Linked DNA regions of Homo sapiens. The protein of the gene in region 1 purifies or fractionates together with the protein of each later gene. This does not show direct contact. Each region holds a gene or a part of one and is shown on either strand. Other genes may lie near its edges.

Region 1 (7,028 bases):
ATTTTCACCCACATTAGAACTTCATTCAAAATTGGAGTCAATTCAGTTAAACTCTGCTGCTGCCTTATCAACTAAGTTTATGTAATACTCTAAATTCTTGCTTGTCATTTCAAGAATGTTCATAGCATCTTCACTAGGAGTAGATTCCATCTCAAGAAACCACTTTCTTTGCTCATTGATATGAAGCAACTCCTTATTTATTTTTTATCGTGAGACTGCAGTAATTCAGTCACATCTTCAGGCCCTACTTCTAATTCTAGTTCTCTTCCTATTTCCACCACATCTGCAGTTACTTCCTCCACTGATGTCTTGAACTCCCACAGAGTTATCTGTAAGGGTTGGAATCAACTTCCAAACTCTTGTTAAGGTTGATACTTTGACCTCTCCCCTGAATCACGAATGTTCTTAATGGCATCTAGAATGGCGAATGCTTTCTACAAGGTTTTCAATTTGCTTTGCCTAGAGTAATCACTATGGCAGCTGTAGCCTTGCAAAATGTATTTTTTAAACAGTAAGACTTCAAAGTCAAAATTATTCCTTGATCCATGGGTTGCAGAATGGATGTTGTGTTAGCAGGCATAATAAAAACAGCTTTAATCTCTTCGTATTTCTCCATCAGAACTCTTGGGTAATTAGGTGCATTGTGAATGAGCAGTAATATTTTGAAAGGAATCCTTTTTTCTGAGTAGTAGGTCTCAGTAGTGGGCTTAAAATATTCAGTAAACTATGCTTAAACAGATCTGCTGTCATCCAGACCTTGCTGTTCCATTTATAGAGCACAGGCAGAGTAGATTTAGCATAATTCTTAAGGGCCCTAGGATTTTCATTATGGCAAATGAGCATCAGCTCATATAGCCCGTAACAGCTCTGTCAGCCCGTAACAAGAGAGTCAGCCTGTCCTTTGAAGCTTTTGAAGCCAGGCATCGACTTTTCCTCTCTAGCCTTGAAAGTCCTAGATATCATCTTCTTCCATTAGATCTATCTATTCCAAGCCTGTTTCATCTGCATTGAAAATCTGTTGCTTTGATTAGCCACCTTCATCAATGATCTTAGCTAGATATTTTGAATAACTTGCAGCACTACATCAGCATGTGCTGCTTCATGTTGCCCTTTTATGTTACGAAGATGGCTTCTTTCCCTAAACCTCATGAACCAACAACTGCTAGCTTCTGACTTTTCCTCTGCAGCTTCCTCATCTCTCTCAGCCTTCATGGAAATGAAGAGAGTTAGAGACTTGCTGTGCATTAGGTTTTGGCTTAAGAGAAGGTTGTGGCTGGTTTGGACTTCTATCCAGACCACTAACGCTTTCTCCATATCAGCAATATGCTGTCTCACTTTCTTAGCATTCATGTGTTCACTAGATTAGCATTTTTAATTTCATTCAAGAAGTTTTCCTTTGCATTCATAACTTGGCTAGCTGTTTGGTACAAAAGGCCCAGCTTTTGGCCTATCTGTTTTTGAAATGCCTTCCTCACTAAGCTTAATCATTTAAAGGTTTTGATTTAAAATGAGAGATACATGACTCTTCCTTTTACTTGAACACTTAGAGGCCGTTGTATTGTTATTAATTGGCCTACTTTCAATATTGTTTTGTCTCAGGGAAGAGGAAGGCTCCAGGAGTGGGAGAGAGATGGGGCAACAGCCATTTGGTGGAACAGTCAGAATATAGACAACATTTATTAAGTTTGCTGTCTTAAATGACCTTATATGTTCATGGTATCCCAAAACACTTAAAATAGTAACAGATATCACTGATCACAGATGATCGTAACAGACATAATAATGATGAAAAGTTTGAAGTATTATAAGTGTTACCAAAATGTGACACACACATAAAGTGAACACACACTGTGGAAAAATGGCATCAATAGACTTGCTTGACTTAGGGTTGCCACAGATCTTCACTTTGTAAAAAAACACAATATGTACATACTGTGCAATAAAGTGAGGTGTGCCTATGTGCCTTACATAGGTGCAATAAAGTGAGGTGTGCCTGCATCTGCTAGGCCCTGTGGGTGACACAAGGGAGGATACATGAAGATGATGCATGTCTTCACATTTCTTCTAGTGTAGGAGGGAAGACAGCTGGATATGCTACTAACTGTAAAACTGGGCAGGAAGTGATGGCACTATGAAAGTACAAAACAGTATGGTACTCCAGGGGACATAGAGATTACATTCTGTTTTGCAGGAGTAGGGGGCTGGATGGTGAGGAATGGAACAGAGAAAGCTGCATGAAAGATACAGCATTATAGCCAGGGCTTGAACAATTAAAGATAAAGAGGTATCTGTTTCCAGATGGAGTTAGGAAGGCTTGGGCAAGTTTGGGGAATGAGAGATTCCCCAGTTTGAAGGTCAGGAGCTAGTGGGAGGATAAGACTGGGAAGGTTGGTGGAGGACTGATCAGAAACTTTTAACATCATTTGAGAAAGTTGGAACTTTGGAGAATAGTTTAAGAAGGAAGAAGTTGAGGGGTTTCCTGTGTGCATATTGAATTTGAGATTCCAACAGGACATTCAGCTGGAAGAATGTTGTGCTAATTAGAAATGCAGGTCTGGAACCTCAGAGGAGAGGGCTCATCTTGGAGATTCTCACAGTTGAAACTGTACAAGTGGTTGATGTTGCTGATTTGGGAGGAAGGATTCAAAACGAAAGGAAGAAGGCATAGGACAGGATTTGGGGGATTTTGGTGGTAAGCTGGAGTGGGAGCAATAGAGAGAAGGGGAGTTGGTGAAAGAGAATTTAAGAGCCTAGGGAATGTGATGTATGGGAGCCAAGGCAGTGAGAGTTTTAGAAAAGAAGAGAGAGCCCGTCGTTAACTGCTGTAGAAGGGCCAAGGACCATGAGTACTGAGGGAAAGGACTGGTGGGCTTCATCATCTTCAGTTCTTTCTGATTTTGTTGGTTTTAACTTTAGGGGATAGCTTCTTAGGTTTCTGTAAACAAATAGGAGCACTTAATATCCTTGGTCCAGATATCTGCCTATGCCCAGAAACCCTACCCGATGTGTATAACATGTTTTCATTTCTTACTACATAGCTTGTGTGGGTCTGAGTACATTTGGGAATTTTGTGAAAAGAACATATAATATATGGGCTCTGTCAGGATTCTTTCTGGAACTTTGTCCCGGAAACCCCATGTGTCAATGCTGCTCCTTAACTTCTCTCTGGCCCTAATGTTTGAGTATGCCCATATTTCATGCTGCCTCTTCCCACATTTGGAATGAAGCCCAGAGAATGAATGCAAGGAAGGAAGGGGAAGGTGTTAAATAGACATTGTTTTTCAGGCACCATGCTAAGTACTTTGCCTGCATTATCTCATTTAACCATCATAATAACCCTGTGAAGTAAGTAGTATTATCCCCATTTTACAGATGAGGAAACTGAGACGCAGAGAGGTTAAGTGACTTGCCCAAGATCACAAAACTAGTAAGTAAGTGTGAACCCAGATCTGTCTGACTCCAGAGCCTGTGCTCTTTTCCATTGTATCACACTGAGGCTCTGAGTTTGGAGTTCTAAAGTTGGTGTGCAGACCCGAGAGTCAGGGAAGCTCTGCCTAGCACCCTGGGGGAAGCCAGCTTTGGGATGTGATTTATAAATGGCTGTACCCATTGCTGACACTTATGTCATTTTGGCCTTAAGTTCTTTTGAATTGCTCACTCACCTTCCTAATTCTTCCTAAGAAGAACTTTATATAATTGATGTTCTTTTAAGGTCTACTATAATTAAAGACTGATTGCCTCTAGGGAGTGGAACTGGAGGTGGGACGGGGTGGGGCAGGAGGCTGTTGTTTTCCATTGTAAGTCCTTCTATGCTAATACATTTTTAGAATGACATTACTTTGATTCTATAAAAAACCCTCTAATGACCAGTAGAAACAGATACAATAGCAAACACTAAGAATACACAAAAGAACACACTTTGCCAGGTTAATGACTGTGAGATACATTCTTATAACATCACAAAAACTACGTTTTGTGTATCTGTCCTTTTATTTGAAGGTTCGAAATGAGTTTTACAAGGACACACAGGGTGTGATACTGGTCTATGATGTTGGGCAGAAAGACTCCTTTGACGCCCTTGATGCGTGGCTGGCAGAAATGAAGCAAGAGCTTGGACCTCATGGAAACATGGAAAATATTATATTTGTAGTTTGTGCCAACAAGGTAACCCCTCTGGAAATGGTGTGTTCAGATTTCTAGGGAAAGAGTGGAGCTTTGAGTGTTGGGAAACAAAAAGAAAAGAAAAATTCCTTATTGTGTAATATGGAAATCAATAACCTTTCAAAACATAATGTCCCTAAGACAAAAACAAAACAACACAGCAGCCTAAAACCTGCTATATCAAAATTTGTATACATTTTTTTTTTTCTGGTGCCATACATGGGGAAGGATGTTGGTGACTGAGTGGGAGCAATGGTTCCTAATAATCAGACTCTGACCCGACTGGAGTAGGGGCATTAATTAGGTGATGTGGACTATGGAAAGGTGTGAAAAGCAGACTATGGCCCCAAGGGTATGGCAGATGTCATGAAGCCAACTTTCACAGAACTGAGTAACAGCTGTTTTCCCAAGGGATCAGGTGGGACATTGCAGCAGCAGGCACTAGTCCTGTTGCCATAGAATATCAGTCTACATTCAATATTAAGTTTTGTTTCTGTCCCTTTGGTCCTGGTAATTTTACACACTAGTGCAGGCATTTACTAAGAATAGCTTTGCCTTAGTAAAGGATTGACAGAGACCCTCACTGGGTCCATTCTAGTAGGACAAGATTGTAATCTTCTCTCTGTCCCCCGCCCCTTCTATTTCAGATTGATTGTACCAAACATCGCTGTGTAGATGAAAGTGAAGGACGTCTTTGGGCTGAAAGCAAAGGGTTCCTGTACTTTGAAACTTCAGCACAAACTGGAGAAGGCATTAATGAGATGTTCCAGGTAAGCTAGCATTTTGTTGTTTTAAGGTTTGTGTCAAGGCCACTGTGCCAATTTTCAGTTTAAATTATAGGAAGCAAAAAAGTAATAGGAATTTCTCATTAGAATAAGCTCTTTCTTTTCAAAGAATCTAGTGAGATAGAAATAGAGAAAGGGGGAGAGAAAGGAAGAGAGAATGAGAATGAGTGATCTGACTGCTGTCTATTTTAGATGAGACTTAGCTGATCACCAGAATTACCTGAGGAAATTCTTAAAATACATACTTCTAGGCTTCAGACCTACTGGAAGCTTATGTTGCGATGGAGCCCAGGAATCTATATTTTGAAAAAGCTCTCTCTCCAGGCGATTCTGAAGATCATCAAGTTTAACAAAAGTTATTATACACTGCTTAAGCAGGACAGAGATTTTCTTCAAAGCTACCTTTGGCTAATGGTATTACATTTATATGCATAATCAGATAGAAGCATTACTGTGGCAAAATTGCCTTGCCACCGCTAGTATAATCCTATATTGTAGCCCACAGGGGTGCAGTTAGAGAATAGGAGACTGTCAGTATAGACTCCATCCAGTCACACATAAAAATAAGGCCTCGCCAATCAAGCAGGAAATAGAGGGAGGCGCTCACATCACAACCTGAACAGATGGCCACTTTAAAAAAACCTACTCATCTTGAGTAATTTTAAGGGAAATAGGCTATTTAAAACAATAACTTATAAAGTCAGCCCTTAATTATAGATACATTTGGAAGTAAGTGGTAGCATGAATAATGTAGTTTTCTTCTTATGAATATATCTGATATTTTGGGAATTTTTAGCATTTCAAATAAAGTAGTTACACTATAAAGAGTTGTTCTTAATTATTGAGTGGGATTGTACTTAATCTTTTATGCTGAATTTCCTTCTCACAAGATGTCACTCCTCCTGCTAGAAGACAGATTTCTTCCTTGGCTGACAGGCTGAATTAAGCAAAAGTATTTTCTATTTCAAGATCAAATAAAGTTGATGCTGGTTTGCCATGCTTTCTATTCTTTTGAGTACTTGGAGCTATGTGACTTTGTGCCTGTATGTGTACAATAATGATACCTAACCATTTGAATAGTACTTCACCATTCTGGAGAATTTTACACATTTCATCTCATGGAGACTTACAGCAACAATGTGTGGCAAGTATTGTTATCATTTCATATATGAGAGCATCTAAGGGTAGTAAAGTGATTTGTCCAAGGGACATACTTGTTAGAAATGAGATTTTTTTCAACACTTTAAAGATGCTGGTCCATTCTCTTCTGGCCTCCATTGTGTGTCATGAGATGTTAGCACTCATTCTGACTCTTATTAATCTCTGTACCTAATGTGCCCTTTTTACCCCCTGGCTGCTTTCAAGAGTTTCTCTTTTCTTTGGTTTTCAGCAGTTAGAATATGATGTGCCAAGATGTGATTCTCTTCATTTTTATTCTATTTAGGATTTACTGAGTTTCTAAGATTGGTAGGTGGGTGTTTTTCATCAAATTTGGGGAGTTTTCTGTTTTGTTTTTGTTTTACTATTATTTCTTCAGAGTTTTTTTGGCCACATTCTGGCTCTCTTTACCTTCTTGGCCTCCAATTACATGTATATTAGACCATTTGATTTTGTCCCAGAGTCCCTGAGGCTATATTTATTTTTCTTCCATTTTTTTATGCATTTTTCAGATTGCATAGTCTCTGTTGATTTGACTTCACCACTGACAATCTACTGTTAAACTCCCTGAGGGAAGTTTTCAGCTCTAGAATTTGCATTTGGTTCCCAGTATAGTTCTCAGTTCTCTATTAGATTCTCTGCTCACTCATTAAGAGTATATTTTCCTTTAATTCTTTGAATGTATTTTTCTTTACCTCTTTGAAATATTTATAATAGCTGTTTTACAGTCTTCATCTGCTAAGTCCAACATTTGAACCATCTTGGGTTCAGTTTCTATTTACTACCTTTTTTCCTGACTATGGATCACATTTACATGTTTCTTTGTATGAGTAGTGGTTTTTGATTGAACACCAGACCTTGTGGATAACACATTGTAGAGACTCTAGATTCTTTTATCTTCCTCAGAAGACCGTTGGTTTTTTT
Region 2 (7,028 bases), on another chromosome or scaffold:
ACCACACAAGTGTAGCCTTTTACTCAAATTTTACAGATTTCCATTAAAAGTAATAGAAGAGAGAAGAGAAAGGGGGAAAAAAGGAGAAAGGAGAAGTAGAACATATAAAATTACTAATTAGGGCCACTGATGGATTCTCACCAGGCATGCATGCCCTGCTTTCTTTGGCTCTGACAATATACAGGTCAATGTCTGTGATTCATGGACAACAGGCCTAAATTACAAATGCCTAAAAAGCTGTATACAAAGTTTCCAAGTTATAGTCTTGTTAAGAAAAAGAAAAGGATAAAAAAATAAAATCAGTGAATTTTAGAACCAAAAATGGTATACTATTGTTTCATAACCAAACAATAGTATATTATGCACACATATATCCTATAACTTTGATTTTATAAAGATGAAAAAACTCCTATATCATCATTTTCTAAACTCTTAAATAAAGGAAATATAGCAATTGAAGCACTTTAACGCTGAACCTTTCTTTTCCCATAAATTACGCACAGACTCTGATTTGTGACAAGACTACTTCCGTACCTCACAAAGCTTACAACCATACCTGAATGGTAAATTAAAAATCAAATGACAACAAAAACAAAAGTTATTTGGGTATTATAGATGAAAGGACTCAAAACTTAAACAAAAAATTAGTAATTCAGGTGTGGCGGAGTGCTTCTTTTCAATTGGGGATTACTGATCTATTTAAAATCTAAGTATAGAAACTCAACATTTCTCTCAAGAAGAAATCATCTTTTGTGAAATAAACCTAAACAATCAGTAATCTCAGAACCATCTTTTTGCATATTAAAAATCGGCCATGACCTCAAGTTGTAGAGAATGTTTTCATTTAGCTTGAACTTTCTTTACTTACAGAGTAAATCATTCAGATAAAAAAAAATCAAACAGCCCATTTTCTCATTTGTTTCTAAAAGAAACCAGAATCAGGACATTTTTATTAGATATAAAGTTTTTACTACTATATCACTGAAAAATAAAATTTCTATAGAACTCTCTGAAAAATCTAAAACTTTAACTTCCAGCACCAAAGCGGATTTGTAATAATCATCATCCATAAGCAATATAGAACTCATCACCACTTCTACAATACTTACAGACTTAGAGGGTATTTCCCATCCTTTACATGTGTTGCCCCACCCTTCTCTCTCCAGGAAGGGAGTTCAACAGGATTTGGGGCAGGAGCAGAAGCAAGAAGCTGCCTCTGCCCCCAAGCTTCCTCAGTGGCAGGCTGTGGCCTGTCAGGCTGCACCATGTCCCTTCAGCCCCCAGCACCACTGCCTTCCAGGAATCCACAGGACTCTTCTGATTTCAAAGTTTTAAAGCCAGGGTGCAGCTGATTAGGAACTTCAATAGAATCCCCTAGTCCTTGGGAACAGTACAGATACTGTTTCCCACAGCTCCATAAGTTGGAACCAACTCTCCCTGCTCACTACCTGTCTAAATCCAAACCATTCAGCAGATCCAAGCAGGCTGCATTTAAGGATATGAAACAGAAACAACCAATTGTCTAAAACTATGTTTTCCAACATTGTAGCCATTAGTCTGCATATGGCTATTTACATTTAAATTAATTAAAATTAAATGAAATTTATAAATTCAGCTCCTCAGTTATGCTAATCACCGTTCAAGCATTCAAGAGCCATTTTTAGCTAGAAGCTACTAACCTGGACAAAGCAGATACAAAACATTTTCATTATCACAATCTATTGGACAGTGTTGGTCAAATATAAATTTGGTGTGTGTTTGTTTTTAACTAAAGGAGTAAACACCTAAAGCTAGGGGGTAATTACCTGGTGGCAGTAAGTTTCTGGTGAAAAAAGAAACATAATTGGTTAGCATGGACCCAAGTGGAAGCATTAAAATGAAAGGAGAGTCTAGAAAAGCAGGTAGTTTACTTAAAAGCAAATACTAATTCTTTGATTATTAAAAATGATCATAAAATCAAAAACTAAGTTATTTGCTACCTACTGAAGATTCATAATGTGCAAAACCATATGCAACAGAATAAAGGAAAAACAAGGACACAACCTTTACTCTTTGTAAATTAACATTCCTAAGGAGACAGGACACACAGACAGACTGACGTTATTCTTTCTGTGACTATGTTTTTTCGGAGCATGAAGTGGGGGATGCCAAGATTTCAGTCTCTGTCTGAGGAGTACCACTGAGGCCAGGAAAAAGGACAGCCAAGGAATTGAGGTCTATTGTAAATCATTTCTGCAAAAGTATGGGGTTATGAGCTGTTATACAAGGCAGATACCTGAGCTCATACTTGGCCCAAAAGGATTTAAAAATCACCTCTAATAACAGCAAACACCAAACTCAGAGTGACCAGGGAAGTAACACAAGTTTCCTCACCATTTCAAAGGCAACTTCAAAAAGTGGTAAATATGATGGAGAAAGAATCATAAAATTCATTCATGAAACATTCACTGAGTGCTTAACTAATGTAACGATTCTGAATATGCCCATCAGAAAGAGCACCTCATCTCACAGCATACTCAAGTAAATAACAACTGGGGACCTGTTTTCTGCTGTGGCTTAAGTGAATACATGTGTGTGCATGTGTGCGTCTGTATGTGTGTGTTGTGGTGTTGCCTATGTATGTAACAATCTTTACCGAAAGATTGAATTGGTCACATAAATCAAATAAAAGAAGATAATTTTTAGATTTGAGGACAATACTTAAAACGGCAACAACACAGGAGGTTATTCTAGACTGTAGAGGACAACACAGGAAACCAAGAAGGTCCACTAGGCTGATAAAAAGACAGAATAAGAAATAAGGGTTGCTGTTGGATGATGTAGAATAAGGCACATTGGAGCTGTTAAGTTTACATTTGACTTTGACATGAAGGATAATGGGATTAGTCACTAATTGTGACTTTACTGAAGTATGTGGATATATATATATTTGATTGGAAGAGGAGAGACTAAAGGTGAATAAACTACTAGCAGCAGCTTAGAGTAGATTAATTCTGAAATAACTTATGTTGGACCAGGGTTTAGGCCACAGAGATGGACTGAGTACAAACTGCATTAGCTACATCAGTTTACAAGCATCTAGGAAAGGAAGGGTTATTAAATGTTTCCAAAGAACATTAAATAAGAATTAGAAACTTTGGTTTTAACAATACTGTAGTTACTATGTATGAGCGGTAACTTTATTTGTAATGTTTTCCCCTTTATTGATTTTTAAAATCATAAGACAATTAGATGCTTCTTGTAGGAATTTAAACAATATGTAAGTGGAGTATATAAAATAAAAAGAAAGAATTGCTCTTTCTCATCTCCAGTACCTCCTAATCCATTCTCTTGAGGGAACCATTACCATTAAAATTTGGTATTTGTTAAGATATTTTGATATTTTGGTAAAATATACATTATTAGTGTGTATATAGGATCATAGTATTCCTATTGTTCACTATATATTCTTTTTACTTAACATTATATATAGCCATATTTTCAGTTTTCACCATGGCATGATAGTTCATGATCCTAAGGAACATTCTTTAGATTACTGTTCTAGCAGAACTGGTGCAGTCTTAGTTGATAAAACATCATCATTCAACTGCCTCATCCTAATTAAAGAACATATAGCACTGCAATTACCATCTGTAACACAGCACTAAAATTTTCTTTTTAAAGTATCCTTTTTATTAGAGTCAAAATAACAGCTAATCTGAGGTTAAACACAGTGCTCCTAAATTTATTATCCACATATGAATTTTCTTATATAATATGACTTACGACACTTGTAAAGCGGCATTTATTTCCTTGAGTAGCTCGTTAGTCTTATTAAAATCTGCCCGCATGATATTTTTCTCTCTGAGGTGGTCTGCTGTCATGACATCCAACTCTTTTTCAAGTCTCTTGTTTAAATCTTGTTCATGCAACCTGTTTGATTTATTTTTAGTTAAGAAAATGTTATTCTGAAGTCAAGCTTTCAAAACTTTCTATTATTCTACCAGATTTGAAATGGTTTTTGGTATAATATATAGAAAATTTATGTAAACAGCCTAAATTAAGCTACTTACTTTCTGCTATAAGCTTCTGGCTTTGTTAAAGTTGTCTCCTTTAATGCTTTTTCAAATAACATTTTAAAAAGAATTCAGTTAATTATATACAATTTCCAAAGTGAATGAATACATGTTACATCATTCAAGATATAAACATTTCATCTGTGTTCTAGATTATAACATAGTCATCAAATAAAGTAAAAAGAGGTCTTCAATATTTTACTAGAGAGCCAGTCTAGTCACAAAATTAGCATAGATTACTAAATATCAGCACAACAGTTTTTCAGATGACACTGCATATTCCTTCTGTTGTACTTAATGGCATACCTTATCTGTTGGTTAGATTCACTTCGTATTCTGAGAATTTCTTTCCCCTTAAATTCCAGTTCTTTGGTTAGGGCACTTATATTCTCATGAAGGTGCTGAACCTCCTTATCCAATTCAGAGATGTGATGCTCTCTGTGTCTTAATTCCTCTTGTAGATCTGTAATTCTACATATGTGCTCCTTACTCTGTTAAAAAAAAAAAGTCATTTTTAGAAGTTTTCTACATATTTGATTTCTGTGTTTATCTGCGGGAAAGAAAATGACACACTGGAATGTCAAATGTAATCATTCTGACATTGCTTCTTCAAAAGCAAACTGCTGAAATGAGAAAACCTCAAGGCCTGTTCTCTTTCCACACATATAGTGTGTATATGGATATAGCTTCAATAATGTCAGATTACAAAGAACCCAAAAGGTCAAAGGACATCTCTCTCATTTTACAGATGAGGAAACCAATACCCAAAGATGATTTATAATCAGTGGATTAGTTGAGATTAGAACACAGTGCTCTTACATCCTCAGTAAGTTTTACATGATTTTGAAGAATAATTGTGGCACCACTGCCTATAATCTAAAGAGAAAGTGCATCTAAGGAGGCCCTCCTAAAACACACACATCACATGGCTTACAAAGCAGACTTAGTTTAGTGCTGCTCTAGCAGTTATCTGACAGTTAAGCTCCCTTCTGTGATTGTGCCACTCCACTCCAGCCTCAGTGACAAAGCGAGACCCTGTCTCAAATAAATAAATAACTGAATCAAATAAAGCTCTTCAATATAAATAGAATGTGATAACTAGTGAAAATAAGTTATTACAAAATAATTTTCAGGAAATTATGAACATTCAATCTATTCAAATTTAAGAAATCATCAGAGTACAGAATACTCTTACTTACCTGTCTTCTGCTGATGTCTATGCTTCTCTCTAATTCCATTTTAGCAGCTGCCAATTCTTGATGATGATTATGCCGTAACAAATCAATTGCAGCTGCATGTTGATGGTTGAGTTCTGAGCGCAAGGAAGCTGGAATTGCAAGGCAAAAATACATTTGGCACATTTAAAAAATATTATCAATACTTTAGATAAAAATTATAGAAGTAAAAAATTATTTCAAAAATTAGAACACTTGTGTATGTCCATTAAATTAATAGATTATAAACTATGACAAATTTAAATATTACAGACTACAATATACTATCATGAATTTAAAGTTAATGTAGCTTTGATGAGGATATAAAATATTTCAAATGTTTAAGCGGATCAAGGTATTTTTATACATGCTTTCAGTATGCAGGTAAAGTGCTAATGGAGATGAAGTATTTTTAATTCGTCTCTTTCACTATTAGGATAATAAAATTTGGTCAAGCACGGGGGCTCATGCCTATAATCCCAGCACTTTGGGAGGCCGAGGTGGGTGGATCACCTGAGGTCAGGAGTTCGAGACCAGCCTGATCAACATGGTGAAACCCCGTCTCTACTAAAAATACAAAAAATTAGCCAGGCATGGTGGTAGGTTCCTGTAATCTTAGCTACTCAGAAGACTGACACAGGAGAATTGCGTGAACCTGGGAGGCAGAGGTTGCAATGAGCCGAGATCACGCCATTGCACTCCAGCCTGGGCAACAGAGTGAGACTCCATCTCAAAAAAAAAAAAAAGAATGAAATTTTAGAGTTTAATGGTACCATAACAAATATTTAGGAGGCAACTTCTCACCCAAATAAGAATTCTTCAAAAATATCCCTAAAGGAGCCTGGCTGGTCAATGTTCTCATGATATTGAAAAATGTTCAATATCATGAGCCACTAGGAAAATGCAAATTAAAACCAGAATGAGTTATCACACATTCCTATCAGAAAGGATGAAATATAATGACAACATCAAATGTTGGTGAGGATGTGAGCAAAATTTATATGATGCTAGTAGGGATGGAAAATGGTACAATCACTCTAGAAAATGTTTGGCAGTTTGTTACAAAACTACATATGCAGCTGCCATATGACCCAGCAACCGCACTCCTAGGCACTTATCCCAGAGAAATGAAACTTATGTTTATATGAAATTTGTACGTGAATGTTTATAGCAGCTTTATTTGTAACAGCTAAGAACTAAAAGCTCAGGTGATCTTTAACGGGCAAAGGACAACAAACTACGGTGGATCAAAACCACTGAATACTACTTGGCAATAAAAAGAAACAAACTGTTGATACACACAATAACCTAGATGACTTCAGATAATTATGCCGAGTGAAAAAAGGCCAACCTCTACATGTTAAATATTGTTGGGTGTGGTGGTTCACACCTGTAATCCCAGCACTTTGGGAGGCCGAGACCCGTAGATCACTTGAGGCCTGGAGTTTGAGACCAGCTTGGGCAACATGGTGAAACCCTGCCTACAAAAATTACAAAAATTAGCTGGGTGTGGCAGCACACACTTATAGTCCCAGCTACTTAGGAGGCTGAGGCAGGAGGATTGCTTGAACCCGGGAGGTGGAGGTTGCAGTGAGCTGATAGCACACCACTGCATTCTTAACCTGGGCAACAGAGTGAGACCCTATCCCTTCTCCCCAAAAAGGTTAAATATTGTATGATTTCATTTATAAAATTAGAGCATTCTTAACCTGACAAAATCATAGAAATGAACAGGGTAATGGTTGCCAGGTGTTATAGG

Evidence for each region. Proteins that work in one complex are often made in the same cells at the same time.
Region 2: the proteins of DNAJC27 (region 1) and FAM184A purify together in Homo sapiens (affinity purification with mass spectrometry; 2 studies listed by BioGRID and IntAct, with this or other methods). This does not show direct contact.

Annotation. Positions count from the first base shown.
Region 1 is NC_000002.12:24,954,946-24,961,973, reverse strand, and holds part of DNAJC27 (dnaJ homolog subfamily C member 27), read left to right. Parts: intron 1-3,999; coding exon 4,000-4,164; intron 4,165-4,808; coding exon 4,809-4,931; intron 4,932-5,836; coding exon of another isoform or gene 5,837-5,887; exon of another isoform or gene 5,888-5,943; intron 5,944-7,028. UniProt on the Homo sapiens protein: GTPase which can activate the MEK/ERK pathway and induce cell transformation when overexpressed. May act as a nuclear scaffold for MAPK1, probably by association with MAPK1 nuclear export signal leading to enhanced ERK1/ERK2 signaling.
Region 2 is NC_000006.12:118,970,663-118,977,690, forward strand, and holds part of FAM184A (protein FAM184A), read right to left. Parts: intron 5,383-7,028; coding exon 5,255-5,382; intron 4,547-5,254; coding exon 4,362-4,546; intron 3,913-4,361; coding exon 3,766-3,912; intron 1-3,765.